Linked DNA regions of Homo sapiens: region 2 is linked to region 1. The links come from fine-mapping of genetic effects on gene expression. Tissue or cell type: whole blood. Region 1 holds a variant in brackets; the other region holds the start of a gene. All regions are shown on one strand. Distances are from middle to middle.

Evidence for each region. PIP is the estimated chance that this variant, and not a neighbour inherited with it, causes the effect.
Region 2: it holds the start of SLAMF1, and the variant in region 1 is fine-mapped to the expression of SLAMF1 in whole blood (TOPMed, PIP 0.91).

The regions. Positions count from the first base shown.
Region 1 is chr1:160,610,848-160,618,959 of GRCh38, forward strand. SLAMF1 (signaling lymphocytic activation molecule family member 1) reads right to left here. Exons shown (of 7, transcript NM_003037.5): 6 at 1,641-1,733. Among named protein-coding and RNA genes, the nearest start is that of SLAMF1, 32 kb to the right of the region's middle. The variant C/T (reference allele first, on the strand shown) is at 3,905.
Region 2 is chr1:160,643,807-160,651,918 of GRCh38, forward strand. It overlaps SLAMF1 (signaling lymphocytic activation molecule family member 1), which reads right to left and starts at 3,238. Exons shown (of 7, transcript NM_003037.5): 1 at 3,064-3,238. The coding sequence starts at 3,139. It overlaps LOC107985220 (a long non-coding RNA gene), which reads left to right and starts at 3,203. Exons shown (of 2, transcript XR_001738266.2): 1 at 3,203-3,529; 2 at 3,667-8,112. RefSeq lists enhancers at 3,070-3,279, 3,320-3,369.

The DNA of each region.
Region 1 (8,112 bases):
ACAGAATGCAAATGAAAACAGCACTGCTGAGGAAAAGGAAAGGGTCTTAGAGATCATGGCTTGTGCAGGGTCTGTCACAGACAGGGCCTTGCTGGGACAGCACTTGGGTTCCCACACTGCTTCTCCACCTGCAACAAGGGCCACAGCTCCCTTCCAAGCATAAGCATGCTATTATGGGGAGCATGATCTGAGGACCAGCACTCAGTGCCCTGTCTCCCTCTTTGCCCTCTCCCCTTCCATCCCCTTGTAAGGAAAACCATTTGTTTTGCTGTTACATATGGGTCACAATCTGGGAAGCCAAGAGAGTTGTAAATTATTGAGTTTTTAAAAAGTCTAGTGGGACTCAAAGGGAGAAGAGAAAAGTGGTATTGGCAGGAGAGAGGAAGGGGAGAAGAGGGTTATGCGCAAAGATCTCTCATGTCAAAGAAACAAAGAAAATAGAATTTAAGGGTTTTGCCATAAAATGTTAACTATAGCATACTGTTTTTGTCCTTAAGTAAACTTCATTAAAAATCTATGTATTTTTTTGAAGCTTTGAAGTCAGGTTTATATTTTTACTTCCTTCTTAGATATGACAGTGAAGTGAGAATGGACCTCAAGTTGAAGATTGGTTTCATCTTGAAATATAGGGCACCTGCCCAGGCATTTCTGGATGAGTGTGTGTGCGGTAGGAGCTTTGAAAAATAAGGTGGATGCAGGCATTTGTGTGACCTTTGTGCCTCTATCATCCTGGGCTCTCTTCTGAAAGAGCCCAAATGGAGCAAAGATTTCAGCCCAGAATTTATTTCTATTCATTCAGTAAAGGAAAGATTCCTGTCCGAAGTAAACTTAGTCCCTGCTGATCTTGCAATAGGGTAGAATATGCAAGTATCATTTTGAGCTGCACCCCATATTCTCTTCTAGGCTTAACACCTATGCAGATCTCCACCCCTAAATATTCTGATTAAATGGGGCTGCACAGAGTCTAGGCATGAGCATTTTTACAATGCTTCCCTGGTGATTCTGTTTTGTAGCTGGAGTTGAGAACTCCTGGACTCCAGCTGCTGTTCTTAAACTTGAGTGTGTATCAGAATTACCTGGGGTGTGGGTTTTTTAAATACGTAGGTCTATGGCTACTCTCCATAGACATTTTCATTTAACAGAATCCTAGGTGGAAGTCCCTAGGAATCTTTATTTTTAACAAGTACGCTGGCTGATTCTGATGTGGTCCTTGGACAACTCTCAGGGAAACACTGGCCAGCAGGGGGTTAGCAGTGGCCCCGTGTGAGCAGGTATTGGGGGCTTCATGGAAACTGGAAAACCAAAGCCACAGAGACTCCTTTTTGCCTGCATGCTGTGGCCTCCCTTCCCCAGTCCAGGACTCATCAATCTGTTTCATTTAATTTGTTTTTGTTTTAATTTTTTTTTTTTTACTTTTATTTTAAGTTCAGGCGTACATGTGCTGGTTTGTTACATAGGTAAACTTGTGTCATGAGGATTTGTTATACACAGTATTTTGTCACCTAGGTATGAAGCCTAGTGCCCAATAGCTATTTTCCCTGATCCTCTCCCTCTTCCCACCTTAAAAAAAAAAAACTTCCTCATTTTCCCCTCCTTCATGTATTCCCTCTCTACGGAGAGTAGGCAGAGAGATGCCTCACCTGGACAGACTCTGGGACAGGCTCTGTGGCAGCAACATATATGGTGGTGCAAGGGTCCTGAGCTGGGAAGGAGTCAAGTTTCTTCTGAAGAGGCTACAAGAGAAGCAAAGAAAGCAGATTAGCTGAACAGAGAGAGCTAGTTCTCACCCAACTCTCCGATAGAGAAGCACAGACTCAAGAAGACTTGAGGCAGAAAGTTCCTTCCAGTCATTTGGTCCAACCTCCTTCTCAGGTGGGAATTCTCCCCCAAATTCTCTGGAACTCAATTCCCCAGGCTTTGCTTGGACTCCCCAAGTGGCGTCTTGGGGTGCACAACCTCCCAAGGCAGCCTCATCCATTGTCAGTGCTTCTCAAATGTTTTAAATGTCTTCCTCACAAGAAACTGAAATTGGTGTGGCTCTTACAGGGGCAGCTGGAGGGGACAGAATAGCAACAGAATTTAGTCCGTCTCACTCATATCACCGGCTACATGCAGAATTCTTGCATCCCACACTGCCATTCCTACTCTTCCTCCTCCTCACATATGTCTTCTCATTTGCCTCACAACCACTCTGTGTTAAATACTGTTGTTACTCACACTTCACCGATGATGAAGCTACAGCTCAGAAAGACCAAATGTTTTCCTAATGTGTACAAGCAAGAAGTGTCAAAGCCGGGAGTCCCCTGCCTTAAGCTCTTTTAACTTAAGGTGCATGTCCTTTCTATCACTATTCTTTTTTGGTCACTCAACTTATAATGACCTATCCCTTACTTAAATTCCTCAGGTATTTAAAGTCTAATTTACACTTTATGGCACTCTATGCTATATTTAAAACATTCTGATATATTTATGTGTTGTTTCTCCAGTCTATACATTCCTTGAGAAATAAGCCATATATTTTTGTACTCCCCACAGAACAGTATTGGACACATAAAAATAAACTCTTCAGCTGATATTTGTTGATGTTACTTTGAACGAATTAAAATCCACAATTCCTGGACAAAGACCTCAAAATAAATTGAGACCACATCCTTGTAAGATGCGGATGCCATCACTTACAATAGGGAAGTCATTAATTCAACACATTTTGGGGACACTGGTTATGGGATAATGCTGCTGTCCACTCTCCCTGGGTATAGAGCCAGACTTGAAGCCACACCACATGTGTTTTAATGCGAGAAAACTTGGAATTTTGTCATGTGATGGAAGGGTTAAGGAATTAGGAAAGTTTATTGGAGGAAAAAGGGATGGGACATAATTTTTCTCTTCATATATTTGATGAATTGCCATATAGAAAAGGAATTCAATTTGCCTATAAAGTATCTCAGGTTTAAACCAAGATTAGGATTTGGGGAAAATATTTTGATTCAATATAATGAAGATCTTTCTAATGGTAAAAGATGTTCAAATGTGGGATGAATTGCCTTGGCAGGCAATGAGCTCCTATAGTTATAAGTGCTTGGGCATGGTCTAGACCAGTGCTGCTGACTTTTATTATGCATATGAATTACTTGGGGATCTTGTTAAAGGGTTGATTCTATTTCGGAAGATCTGGAGCAGGGCCTGATTCTGCATTTCTAATAAAGTCCCAGGTGATGCTGATGCTGCTTGTTCACAAACTATATTTCAGTAAAAAGGAGCTAGGCAACACTTTGGAAGTAATGTTGTAGCAGATAATTCAAGCAGTAATTGGGTGGTTCAGATAGATGGCTTTCAAGATCCCATACAATTCTTAAATACATTTTGAAGAAATTTTGAGTTTAAGAAAGAATTTCTTGCAGTGATGAGATAAAGAGGCTATCAAAACAGTTTATTAAGAGACCTTTGGCCGGGCGTGGTGGCTCACGCCTGTAATCCCAGCACTTTGGGAGGCTGAGGTGGGTGGATCACGAGGTCAGGAGATCGAGACCATCCTGGCCAACATAGTGAAACCCCATCTCTACTAAAAATACAAAAATTAGCCAGGAATGATGGTGCATGCCCGTAATCCCAGCTACTCAGGAGGCGGAGGCAGGAGAATCCCTTGAACCAGGGAGCTGGAGGTTGCAGTGAGCTGAGATGGCGCCACAGCACTCTAGCCTGGCGACAGAGTGAGACTCCGCATCACCAAAAAAAAAAAAAAAAGAAGAGAGACCTTTATCAACAGATGCAACCTCTGCTGGTCTTCCTGTTTGGGAGAACTTTAGCATAACCTGACCTAGAGGCAGAAGGAGGCAAATAACTTACATTTTTAACATTAATTCAGAAGTTTTAGAAAGGAGAAAAATATGTAAAAGAAGTCACC[C/T]ATAGTCCTATTAAGACTCTGTGTGTGCTTAAATGTTCACTTCAGGATTTTTATCCAGGCATAGGGAATTATTTTAAACATAAATATAATAAGTTAGTATATTTTTGTATCTTATTATCTTCTGTTAGGACCACTGATTTGTACATCTTTAGGGAGCATCATTTACAAGCAACTCCAGAGGCATTATTTTCACATAATTTTTGTGAATGGTGGCCGCTGGAATTAATTCTGCAAGATACTAGCTCTGATAAGTCCTAGAAGAGTTCCTAGCACACAGTAAACACTTGTTTAGTGATTTTCATGTTATTATATTCTTTATAAGATTATTTTATAGCCATTAAAAATAAGAATAAAGGCATTGTTAGTTTTTAAATAATTGTCTACATTATTACAGTCTTTATATTGATATAATAAAGACATCGCAAATATGAACAAAGAAAATTGTGAAAATGTGGGTAAGTCTAAGTATATATTTATATATATAAAACAATAATAATTATGTCTTGTGTGTTTAAAATATATATGAAATTCAAATAATGACAAAACGGTCACTTAAATCAAGAGGTGAAATTATTGTGGACTTGAAGTATTATGCAGGAGGGAAGTAAACCTTAGACTTTGGTAAGTCAAAGTTGTATTTTATAATTTCTAGGGTAGCCACTAAAAAGACTGAAAAAAGTTGTTCACTAATATGTAGAGGAGAAAATTTAATAATAAAAATATAACTTAAAAAAATTTCCACCAAAGAAACCCCAGTCTCAGATAGCTTTACTAGCAATTTGCTCTACTAGCAAATATTTAAGGGGAGAAATAAGACATCCTACCCAAATATCGCAGAGAATAACAAAAAGGAAATGCACCCTGTGGTGGGTTGAACTGTGGCCCCAAAAGATATGTCCAGGCAGAATGTCAAAATGTGACTTTATTTGAATAAAGGTCTTCACAGATGTCAAGATAAGGATTTCAAAATAAGGTCATCCTGGATTAGAATAAGTCCGAAGTCTGATGATGACTGTCCTTATAAGAGATGGAAAAGAAGAAGACACAGAGAGGGAGGTCATGTGAAGATGAAGGCAAAAATTGCAGATACACAACTACAAGCCAACAAATGCCACGGAGAGCCTGGAGCCACCAGATGCTGGAAGAGGCAAAGAGGATTTTCTCCTAAAGCCTCCAGATGGAGTGTGGCCCTGAGGATGTGCCTCCTTGATTTTGGACTTCTGACCTCCAGAACTGTTAGAGAATAAATTTCTGTTGTTTTAAGCCACCAAGTTTCCAGTAATTTGTTAAGGCATCCCTAGGAAACTAACATATACCCCAACTCCTTATGTGAATTAGCATAAATCTTTATATCAAAACCCCACTGGTTGGGCATGACTACCCAGGTCCCTTCCAGTTCTTAAAGTCTGAATTTTTAACAGGAGAGCGACCAACTTTACCGTGATGTGGGTATTAGGTAGAGTAGCTGTGTGTCATTTTGGGATCAATCTGAGGCTTGTGATTAAAGAAGAGTCCAGGAAGAACTCTGTTACTTATTTTTTTAAGGACATTTGAAATATTTCTACCTCAACTTGTATCCCAGTTAGATATATTCACAAGAATGCTATATACCAGCCACTGCAGTGCCTTCTTAAAAAAAAAAAGGCATTATACAAGAGAATTACAGGCCAATTTCACTCAGAAACATAAGTGGAAAACCAAACTCTTAACAAAATATTAGCAAATAAAATCCAGTAATGCTTAAAAAGGACTAGACTAAATTGGTCTACAACAAAATTAAGACCTTCTCTTTATCAGTAGGTATCTCTGAGAAATTCCAAAGGCAAGCTACAGATGGGTGAAGGTATTTGCTAACATATCTGCCAAAGGGCACATATCCAAAATATATGAAAAGCATATACTAGTCCATAAAAGAAAGACTAAACCTCAAAGGGAAATGGGCAAGAGATTAAATGGGCACTTTAAGAAAGAATTTTAATATGGCCAATAAACATATGAAAAGTTGTTCAACTTCCTTAATAATTACAGAGATGTGGAATAAAAGCATAATAAGACACATCCAACAGTAGGACTAAAATTAGACTGTTAATACCAAGTTTTCATTAGAATGCATAGCAATTGAGGCCAGGAGTGGTGGCTCATGCCTGTAATCCCAGCACTTTGGGATGCTGAGGCGGGCAGATCTCCTGAGATCAGGAGTTCGAGACCACCCTGGCCAACATGGTGAAATACTGTCTCTACTAAAAATACAACAATGAGCCAGGTGTGGTGGTGCGTACCTGTAATCCCAGCTGCTTGGGAGGCCGAGACAGGAGAATGGCTTGAACCCAGGAGGCGGAGGTTGCAGTAAGACAAGATCACGCCACTGCACCCCAGCCTAGGCAACAGAGTGAAACTCTGTCTCAAAAAAAAATTTAAAAAAAAAAGGCATAGCAATTGAGACTCTCATATGTAGCTGATAGAAAAGTAAATGGATACGCCCACTTTGAAAAACAGCTCGGCCTTATCTAGTCAATTTGGAGGTATGCATACTCTACGATTCAGCAGTTCTACTTCCAGGTATATCTAGGTATATACCCAAAAAAATATGTGCACATGTCCACTTAACGACTTGCATATGAATGTTCACAGCTGCAACTTTCATAATAGCCTCAAACTGGAAATAACCCACATGTCCATCAATAGTCAACTGGATAAATAAACTCTAGTATATTCATACGTTTATATTCTATGAAGCAATGAAAAAGAATGCATTATATCTAAATTCAAAGACATATATGAATCTCATAAAGATAATACTGAGCAAAATAAATCAGACATGAGAGAAAAAAGAATAAAGAATTCAATTTTTATAAAGTTCAAAAATAAAAAAGGAAAAAGCTAACCTATTTTTCTAGAAGTCAGGATAGTGGTTATCTTTGGGGAGGAGAGAGGAAGTAATGATTGGGAAGTGGCACAGGAGGCCTTCAGGAAGTACGGGCAATGTTCTAGTCTTTGATCTGAGTGGTAGTTTTATGGTATTAGAAGACTCAATACTGAGGCCAGGCACAGTGGCTCACATCTGTAATCCCAGCACTTTGGGAGGCTGAGGTGGGCAGATCACTTGAGGTTAGTAGTTTGAGACCAGCCTGGCCAACATGGTGAAACCCCATCTCTACTAAAGATACAAAAATTAGCTGGGTGTGGTGGCAGGTGCCTGTAATCTCAGCTACTTGGAAGGCTGAGGCAGGAGAATCACTTGAACCCAGGAGGCGGAGGTTGTAGTGAGCCCAGATCACACCACTGCACTCCAGCCTGGGCGATAAAGCAAGACTCTGTCAAAAAACAAAAAACAAAAAACAAAAAACACGCAACACTGAAAAATGTAATTTCTCCTCATATAGATCTGTAGACTCAATACAATTCTAATATTTTTTTTTCTTTTTGTGGTACTTGATAAGTTGATTCTAAAATACATATGAAAGTATAAAGGAACAAGAATAGCCAAAAACTTTTGCAGAAAAACAAATTAGGAAGACTTGCTTTACCAAATATCGAGATATGTGTTTAAGGGTAACTCACTGAGCTGACATTAATGTGTTGTGTATTTTTTTGGTCAGAGTTGATCCTTACTGAGGAGTGGGTATGCATGAGTGTGTGTATGTGAGAGTGAGTGTGTGTGTGTGTGTGTGTAAAATGGAGGAGAGGACTAAAAGTGTGATTAGAAGCAGCTGGAAGTAGCAGAGGAGGTGGAAGTTAGTCCCCTCGAGTGTTTGCAAAGTAAGACATGCCTGCCCAGCACTCTCCTAGGTGTATAGTGGCTACAAATAGAGTAGAGAACAGACTCCAGTCCTCAAAGACTTTCAGTCTTGCAGGTCAGCTCAGACTCAAATGTAGAACTGGGAGGACAGTCCTGAACTGATGAATGCCACTGAATTTTAAATTTTATTTAATTCAAATTAATTTAAATTTAAAAAGCTACATGTGGCTAGTGACTACCATATGTCATGCTTCACAGTAAAAAAGAGGGATGCTAGCAGCATAGGATAGAGTAGTGAGGGAAGACACTATGGTCAAGGTGAACCTGGTTACCTAAACAGGCAGATGAGAGCGTGGGGTGAAAGGGTTACTCTTGGGATTCTCATCTATTTAAATGGAGTTTAGTTGGGGGAAGGATGGAGCTGGGTTGTGTAATAAGCCCTCCAGGCCACTAGGGGACAGCAGAAATA
Region 2 (8,112 bases), 33 kb after region 1:
GATTATTGTTAACTATAGTCACCGTACTGATCTATCAAACACGAAGACCTATACATTTGGAAAGACACACAAGAAACTGGTCACAGTGGTTGCCTCCAGCATGAGGTATGGAAGGGAAATTAGTCTTCACTAAATACTCTTGTGTACTGTTGAAGTTTCATAGACATGACATGTTTTATAGATGTGATAATCAATAAACAAACTAGTTAACAAAAAAAAATTAAATGAACATTTGCATGATGAAAAAAAGTTTTCATTTTCCAAATTCCAGGTCAAATACTTCTTATATGCCCTCTACGTTCTTCTGTGATTTTTATCAGTCTCTCACCTTTTGGACATTTCTATACTTCAATTTATTCCAATTCAATTCAACTCATATTTTTCAATTATAGATAGCACATTCTAATTTTTACCATGGGACCTGGATACAAATTTTGGCATTCTCTCCACCCCTGCTTCCCAAACATAGGCTTGTCCAGTTTTACTCATTGAGGCCTCTGGAGTCAGGCAGCTATGTGAGCGCAGAGAAATTGCTAAACTACTCTGTGCCCCTTTCCTCATTTATAAAGTTGTAATGGTACCAATAATACATACATTTCTTATAGGGTTGGTGTGAAAATGAAATGACTGACACACATAAAGCATTTAGAACAGTGCCTGGTATATGGCAAGTATGCAGTATATACCAGTATTATTCACTCAACAAATATTTGTGGACAGGCTCTCAGTACAGACACAGTGTCAGGTGCTGGGCAGTGGCTGTTGTTCATTTTGTTTTCCCCACACCTTGCACCCTTGCACAGTGGCTGCCACATCATGTGTCCTTAATAGTTGCTGAATGGGATCATTCAAAGTCAAATCTATGGATTAAACCAATTAGCCCTGATACTCTGATTTCCAGTCCAGTGAGGGAGACAGTGAAAGTGACAGCATCACATCACAGTATTAATATTTTTGAGAAATAGAAGTGCCTAGATTGACATCTTGGGATAGAATGGGCCACTGAACACGCAAGGTTAGGCCAAGTCTAGAACCCACGCACTTGTCCCTCACCTTCCCCCAAAGTGTGTGAAGGGGGTGCAGAGGAACTGCATGGAGGAATAAAAAAAACTCATTGACATAAGGTCATCAATTATAACAAATGTACCATCCTGGTGGGGGATATTGATAATAGGGGAGGCTATGTATGTATGGGGCAGAGGGCATATGGGAAATCTCTGTTCTTTCTGCCCAACTTTGCTGTGAACCTAAAACTGCTCTAAAAAATAAAGTCTATTAAAACAAATCTCATCGGGGGAAATGAAAAATTCACTTTACTTGGGGAAGGGACATGTGGACTTTTTGATTTTTACAATTCTGACTGGGAATTAGAAGTTGAGCTGAGTAGAAATGAGAATGGGAGTGGATGCCAGTTTTACAAGAATCAAGCTTCTTGCTTGGGCAAATCTGTCATGACTAACCTGCCCCATTTGCAAAGCATTTCTGTCTGGGTTTTATTGGGGCTTCACAAAAGGGTGTGTATTTAAAAATAAAAACACTGAAAAACTTTTGTGAAGATTCAAAGAAGAAAACATGCAATGAAGTGAGCAGCCTCCGATTGGATAGACTTGCCTTGTGGGGCTGGGTTGCTTCTCCCTGACCGGCGACTTCCAAAGCCTCAATAAGACGAGCTATTGGTCAGCAGTGCCTAAGATGCTATGGGCCAGGCTGGCCAAGAGGCTAGCAAGCACAGAGATGGAAAAGTCCAGTTCACAGTTCAGCACCATCACTCCATCACACCTTACAGTCACCAAGAGGTGCTCCAGAAATGGTGCAGTCACAAATTGGTTGCAACAACGGAGGCTTGGCTTTCCCTGTGACCACTTAAAGTGGCTCGATTTGGTTTTCTGAGCCCCGAGCTCAGTTCTTCCTCCCCTAGACCTTGGGAAGTACGAGCCATGGATCTGCAGATTCCAAAAGAAAGTGGGCTGAGCAAGCCCTGTTCGTCTGGCTGTCTGGTAAAAGACACATCCATTGTGCAGCACCCCCACATCCCTGGCATATCACGGTGCTTTTCCTGGAAAAGTCCATATTGGATTTGCGGTCTTGAAAACCCCAAGCTTAAAACACCCTGGGCCTCAGGATTTCCCCCCGTGTCCGTAATGCCACCTCTTCTACTCCAGGCTACCTCCCACAGTCTAAACAAATAAGCAGAAGGAGATTCTCACCCCACTCACACAGGCAGTCCAAAGTCCACTTCTTGCTTGGCTTTTTCTTTCTCAAATACCTTTTCTCATAGCCCTGATACTTCTAAACAGAAAGCAATAGCCTGCCTTGGGAAGAAGATAGACAGAAAGACAGGAACAGAGTCCAGATCCAAAGGTAGCTCTTGTCTGGCCTTCCTGCTGGAGCTACTCTCTGAGGGTTCCCAATTTGCATTTCCCACATACTGTAACCAGCCCTAGCCTTCAGAAATCCCAACTTCTTCCCTCTTGCTTTCTTGGACCTTCTCTTCCAAGAAAATACACACCAGTATGACCGCACTGTGGCCACTGCTGGTTCTCAGCCAAAAGCCTGGAGTTTTCACTTCTACTCTCTCTTCCCACTCTAGCCAATGCTTTCTGTTGACCCATGCTCCTGGTTTGTCAGCCTGCATGTGCACAGATTCCCTCCCAGGGCAGGGATGTAGGGCAAATCTTCTCCCAGAGCTCAGTCCATCCAGCTCAGTCTCTCTAGGCTGGGTCTTTGCCAGAAGATGCCCATGTAAAACCAACCACTCAAGCAAGACTTCTACCAGGGCCTGTCACCCTAAGACTGGTCAGAAAAGTGACTGGAGCCTTTGGCTTAGAGCCCCTCATTTCCTTGGAAACTGGGGTTGGTGGGGCTGAGTCTTGGAAACCCAAGGGCCCAGGAACTTATAATGTTCCTTCCTCTTTGAAAGAGGCAGTTGAAACTGACAGCCAGTCCCTAAGGAAGAGTGACCAAACACAATACCCAGCCCTGCACCTTCTCTCCATCCACGAAGATACGCTGATTCCTGGCAGCTAACATGGGACTCAAACCATCAGGCAGATGAACACTCACCTGTTCCGTAGCTTGCCCCAAAAGCCAGGGAGAGAAACAGCACGAAGGTCAAGGAGAGGAGCCCCTTGGGATCCATCAGCCAATGAGGAGAAGGAAGGGATCCTGGCCGGAGCCTGGCAGCTGCTCACAGATGCCAGGCAGAAGCAAGCTTCGTGTCATGCAGCAGAGGCTGTCTGATTTATGTATCAGGAACCAGCAGGTTCCTGAACCCGCTTCCTGTATCACTGGGACTTTTTCTGCTTGTGTCTTGAGGATTGCTCATCTCCCATGAGGCTTTAAATCACTTTTTTGTTCTCAAGAAGCAGGCTTCTCAAGAAGCCAGGCACTTAGCCTATGGGAGCCAGGAAAGGGGGTGTGTAGTCACCTCGGCCAAAACCCGGCTTTGGGCAGAAACATGCGCCCCAGCTTCTTTCCTTAGCTGTCTCCAGGAACCGGATGTTGCAGATTCTCTGAGCAGTTCTCTCCGGTAAGTCTTCTTGGATTGCAAAGAAAAGATGTTTCATTGGATCACTCCTCAAATTTGGCAGTTCACAGCTGAACTTAGATAACTGCATTTTGATGAGCTAATAGACCTCTTACTTCTGTTTTATTTCATAATTTCAGATGACACCTCAACATGCAGTCTGGTGCAGGTGCCACTGTCACACAGAGATGGGAAGGGCATGTGCGGGTCACTTGGAAGAAACCCTGTGACCCCGATGAGTGCAATGTGGTATAATTTAGTAGCCCATGCTCCTAGTTTGTCTTCTTGCATGTGTGTGGATTCCCTCCCAGGCAGGGATGTAGGACAAATCTATCCCAGAGCTCCATCCTTCCAGCTCAGTCTCCTTGTTGTGTGTGTGTTTTCTCCTCTAATTTTTAACGTCTGTGGGTACATAGTAGATATACATATATGTGTGTGTGTGTGTGTGTGTGTGTGTGTGTGTGTGTGTGTGTGTATGTATATATATATGTATGGGGTATGCATATATTTGTATGGGGTATATGAGATATGTTGATAGAGGCATGCAATATGTAATAATCACACAGGGTAAATGGGATATCCATCACCTCAAATATTTATCCTTTGTGTTACAAACAGTGCAATTATATTTTTATTTTTAAATGTGCAATTAAATTATTATTGACTATAGTCACACTGTTGTATTATCAAATACTAGTTCTTATTCATTCTTTCTATTTTTTTGTACCCATTAACCATCCCCACTTCTTCCCCAACCCCCACTACCCTTCAGCCTCTGGTAACCATCCTTCTACTCTCTATGCCCACAAGTTCAATTGTTTTAATTTTTACCTCTCACAAGCAAGTGAGAACGTGCAAAGTTTGTCTGTCTGTGCCTGGCTTATTTCACGTAACATAATGATCTTCAATTCCATCCATGTCATTGTGAATGACAGGATCTAATTCTTTTTTAGCTGAATAGTACTTCATTGTGTATATGTACCACATTTTCTTTATCCACTCATCGGTGATAGACGCTTAGGTCGCTTCCAACCTTGGCTATTGTGAATAGTGCTGTAATAAACATGGGAGTACAGATATCTCTTCAATATACTGATTTCTTTTCTTTTAGGTGTATACCTACCAGTGAGATTGTGGATCATATGGTAGCTCTATTTTTAGTTTTTTGAGGAACCTTCAAACCATTCTCCACAGTGGTTGTACTAACTTATATTCCCAACAACAGTGTACAAGGGTACTTTTTCTCCACATCCTTGTCAGCATTTGTTATTACCTGTCTTTTGGATAAAAGCCATTTTAATTTAATTGGGGCTGTGTTGTATTCTGGGAGTTGCCTTTATTTTGGAGTTTGTGTCTAACTTTTCATTGAGGAGAAGGAACTAGTATTGGCAGAAGGAGGATCCCGCCCTTTTTCATGAGTTAAACTATAAGAATGGGATACTGGAAGTGTAACCAATGCTCACAGGGAGACTTGAAAGAGTAGGGAAGTGTTTTTAGAGTCCATTGTAACAGGTCATAGGCACTCTCTGATGGGCCTCCCCATGGGGATCAGGTAATAAAAGCTGGTGAGATATGTGAACTTTATCCTCACTGTTTTCTTCCTTCCTTTCCCCAGCACTCAACTGTCCTCCTCACAACTATTCCCAGTGGTGTGTGCTCGAGTCAGCATGTACCAACTCATAAAATTGTTAAATTTTCAGGAATCTGGATGGGCACAGTGGCACGCCTGTAACCCCACCATTTGTGGAGGCCTAGGTGGGAGAATTTTTGAGGCCAAGAGTTTGAAAATAGTCTGGGCGATAGAGTGAGACCTCATGTCTACAAACAATTTTTTTTAATAAAAATAAAAAATAGATTTTCAGGAATCTTGTGAGGTGCTTGATGAACATGGCCATTATTAAACATATAAAATTAAATTAAATTATATAAACTTACAGTTAAGCTGGGCATGGTGGTACATGCCTGTAGTCCCAGGTACTTGAGAGGCTGAAGCATGAGGACCCCTTGAGCCCAAGAGTTTGAGGCTGTAGTATCTTTATAGCAGTGTGAAAACGGACTATCATGATCATGCCTGTTGGTGTGGTTTGCCGCTGTGTCCCCACCCAAATTTTATCTCGAATTGTAATCCCCATAATCCCCAAGTGTTGAGAAAGGGACAAGGTGGGAGGTGATTGGATCATGGGGGCAGTTTCCCCTCCATGCCGGTCTTAAGACAGTGAGTGAGTTCTCACAAGATTGGATGGTTTTATAAGGCAGTATTTTCTGCTCTTGGCTGCTCTTCTCTCTCCTACTGTGATGTGAAGAAGGTCCTTGCTTCTCCTTTGCCTTCCACCATGATTGTAAGTTTCCTGGGGCCTCCTTAGCCATGTGGAACTGCAAGTCGATTAAACCTTTTTCCTTTATAAATTACCCAGTCTTGGGTAGTATCTTTATAGCAGTGTGAGAGTGGACTAATACACCTGTAAATAGCCGCTGCACTCCAGCCTGGGCAACAGAGCAAAACCCTGCCTTTAAAAAAAACTTCACAACTAAATAAATTATATTAAATAGAGGGAATAAAATCTCAAAGCTCATTGTTTCTTAATTATTTTATGACATTACTGATATCTATGTTCTTGAGGTAATTGACATCTCTTATGTGTCTACAGTGGAAATTAAATACTGGAACATTGGTGCTTCTGGACCTCTCTTCCCCACTCTGCATTCAATGGCATAGTGTTGGGAGCTTGAAACTGGCCATGGTGAGAGTTTATGCCATGGAAATCAGCAAGCAATATAAATCAGAACTTTACTGTTTTGTTGATTGTCTAAATGTAAGAAAGTAATAGAGAAAACATAATGATGCAGAGTAAACTTAAACATGTGCCATGACTATGGCCCTTACATTAGGATTAGCATAAAAAATTGAGGAAACATTTTTCCAGTATTCAAAAACTATCATCTGATTCAGCAAAAAGTCACTAGTGTCACTGATGAGCAAGTGATGTTCCAACATATGTTTTTGTTGTTTCACATTTCTTTAACTTCAAAAAAGACATTAACCAACATTCATGTTGGAACTACATTCCTTTGTCACTTGTAAACACAGTTTGGCTGTGGATATGAATTAAGCCAATATGAAAGCAAACAGCCTGTGAGATCTGTGGCTATATGGAATTTACAATAAAGAGGATTGTACATTTTATTAAAATACAATAAATTTTATTTTATAAATTGCGTGTTACACATTCTTCGTATAAGCAAAATTTATAACAAGCTCATTTACATATATGCATATATTATTTTTCAGAGATCTGGCTCTTAACCATTTACCAACACACCACTGTTACAATAACTGAGAATCCAAATGGTGGAGTGAATGGCATACTGTCTACGTATTCATAAAATATCAGTTGAAATAACTAAATGATGTGAGAATATTGGCATCCTGTAAAAATGGGAAACCAATGATCCAGGTCTGATTTCAAGACTGGTGTTCTCTCCTCAAGCTGCACGGCTCCTGGAATGCATGCTGTCTATTCATGTCAAACCTTCCTCTCTCAAAGACAGACACTTATTCTCTTGTTTACTTTGCCCTTCCTCTCATTTCCAGAATTAGACCTTCTCTAGACTCGCTATGAGGCCTCTCCACTCTGATCTCCTGGATCCCCTCTACACAGATAACTGAGCTAATGCTAGGCACTATATGAAGAGTTTTCCTGTTTGGTGCAATCTAGAACTAAATAAAAACATACATTGAATGAGGGTCAGAAATGGTTTAGATGAAGGTTCTGAGGTTCTAGAGTGGATTCTATATAGAGTCCTCTCTGCCCCCAAATTCTTCTTCACCTGGAACGTCAGAATGTGGACTTATTTGGAATCAGGATCTTTCAGATGTAATTAAGGTAAGAATTGAGATGAGATTATACTGGGTGAATCAGAGTGATCCCCAAATCCAATGAGAGTAGTGCATCTTTCTAAGAAATAGAAAAAGGACACACAGAGACACAAAGAAGATGGCCATGTGAAAAGACAAAGCAGAGACTAGAGCTATGCAGCCACAATTCAACGAACACCAGAGACCACCAGACGCTGGAAGAGGCAGAGAAAGATTCTCCCCTTGAGCTTTCAGAAGGAGCAGGTCTTGCCAATATGTTAATTTTAGACCTTGTGCCTACAGAACGGTGGGAGAATGAATTTCTGTTGTTTTAAGTCATCAGGCTTGTGATAATTTTTTACAGCAGCCACAGGAAACTAATACAGGACCTGAGGGGCAATGTGACTAACCAGAGATTTGCAGTTAGTACATTTAGTATACTGAGCTGCTTCCTTGAGCTATTAAGAGCAGATGTCAACAGACCAACAACAGAAGATATACAGGTGATAGTGCCTTGTAGTTACAAAGCCATTTTCAAAAGCCTTCACATTCACAGCCTTATTTGATCCTCCTAACAGCCCTGCAAAGGAGCTGGTGGTGTTTGTAAGGCAGGATCTGGACCAAACTTGGGAATCCTGACACTGATCAGAGCTCTTTCCTTTTTCCTGGTGAGTATCACCATGAATACTCAAGAGAATAAGGAGGAAGGAAATCTTGCTATTGAACTCCC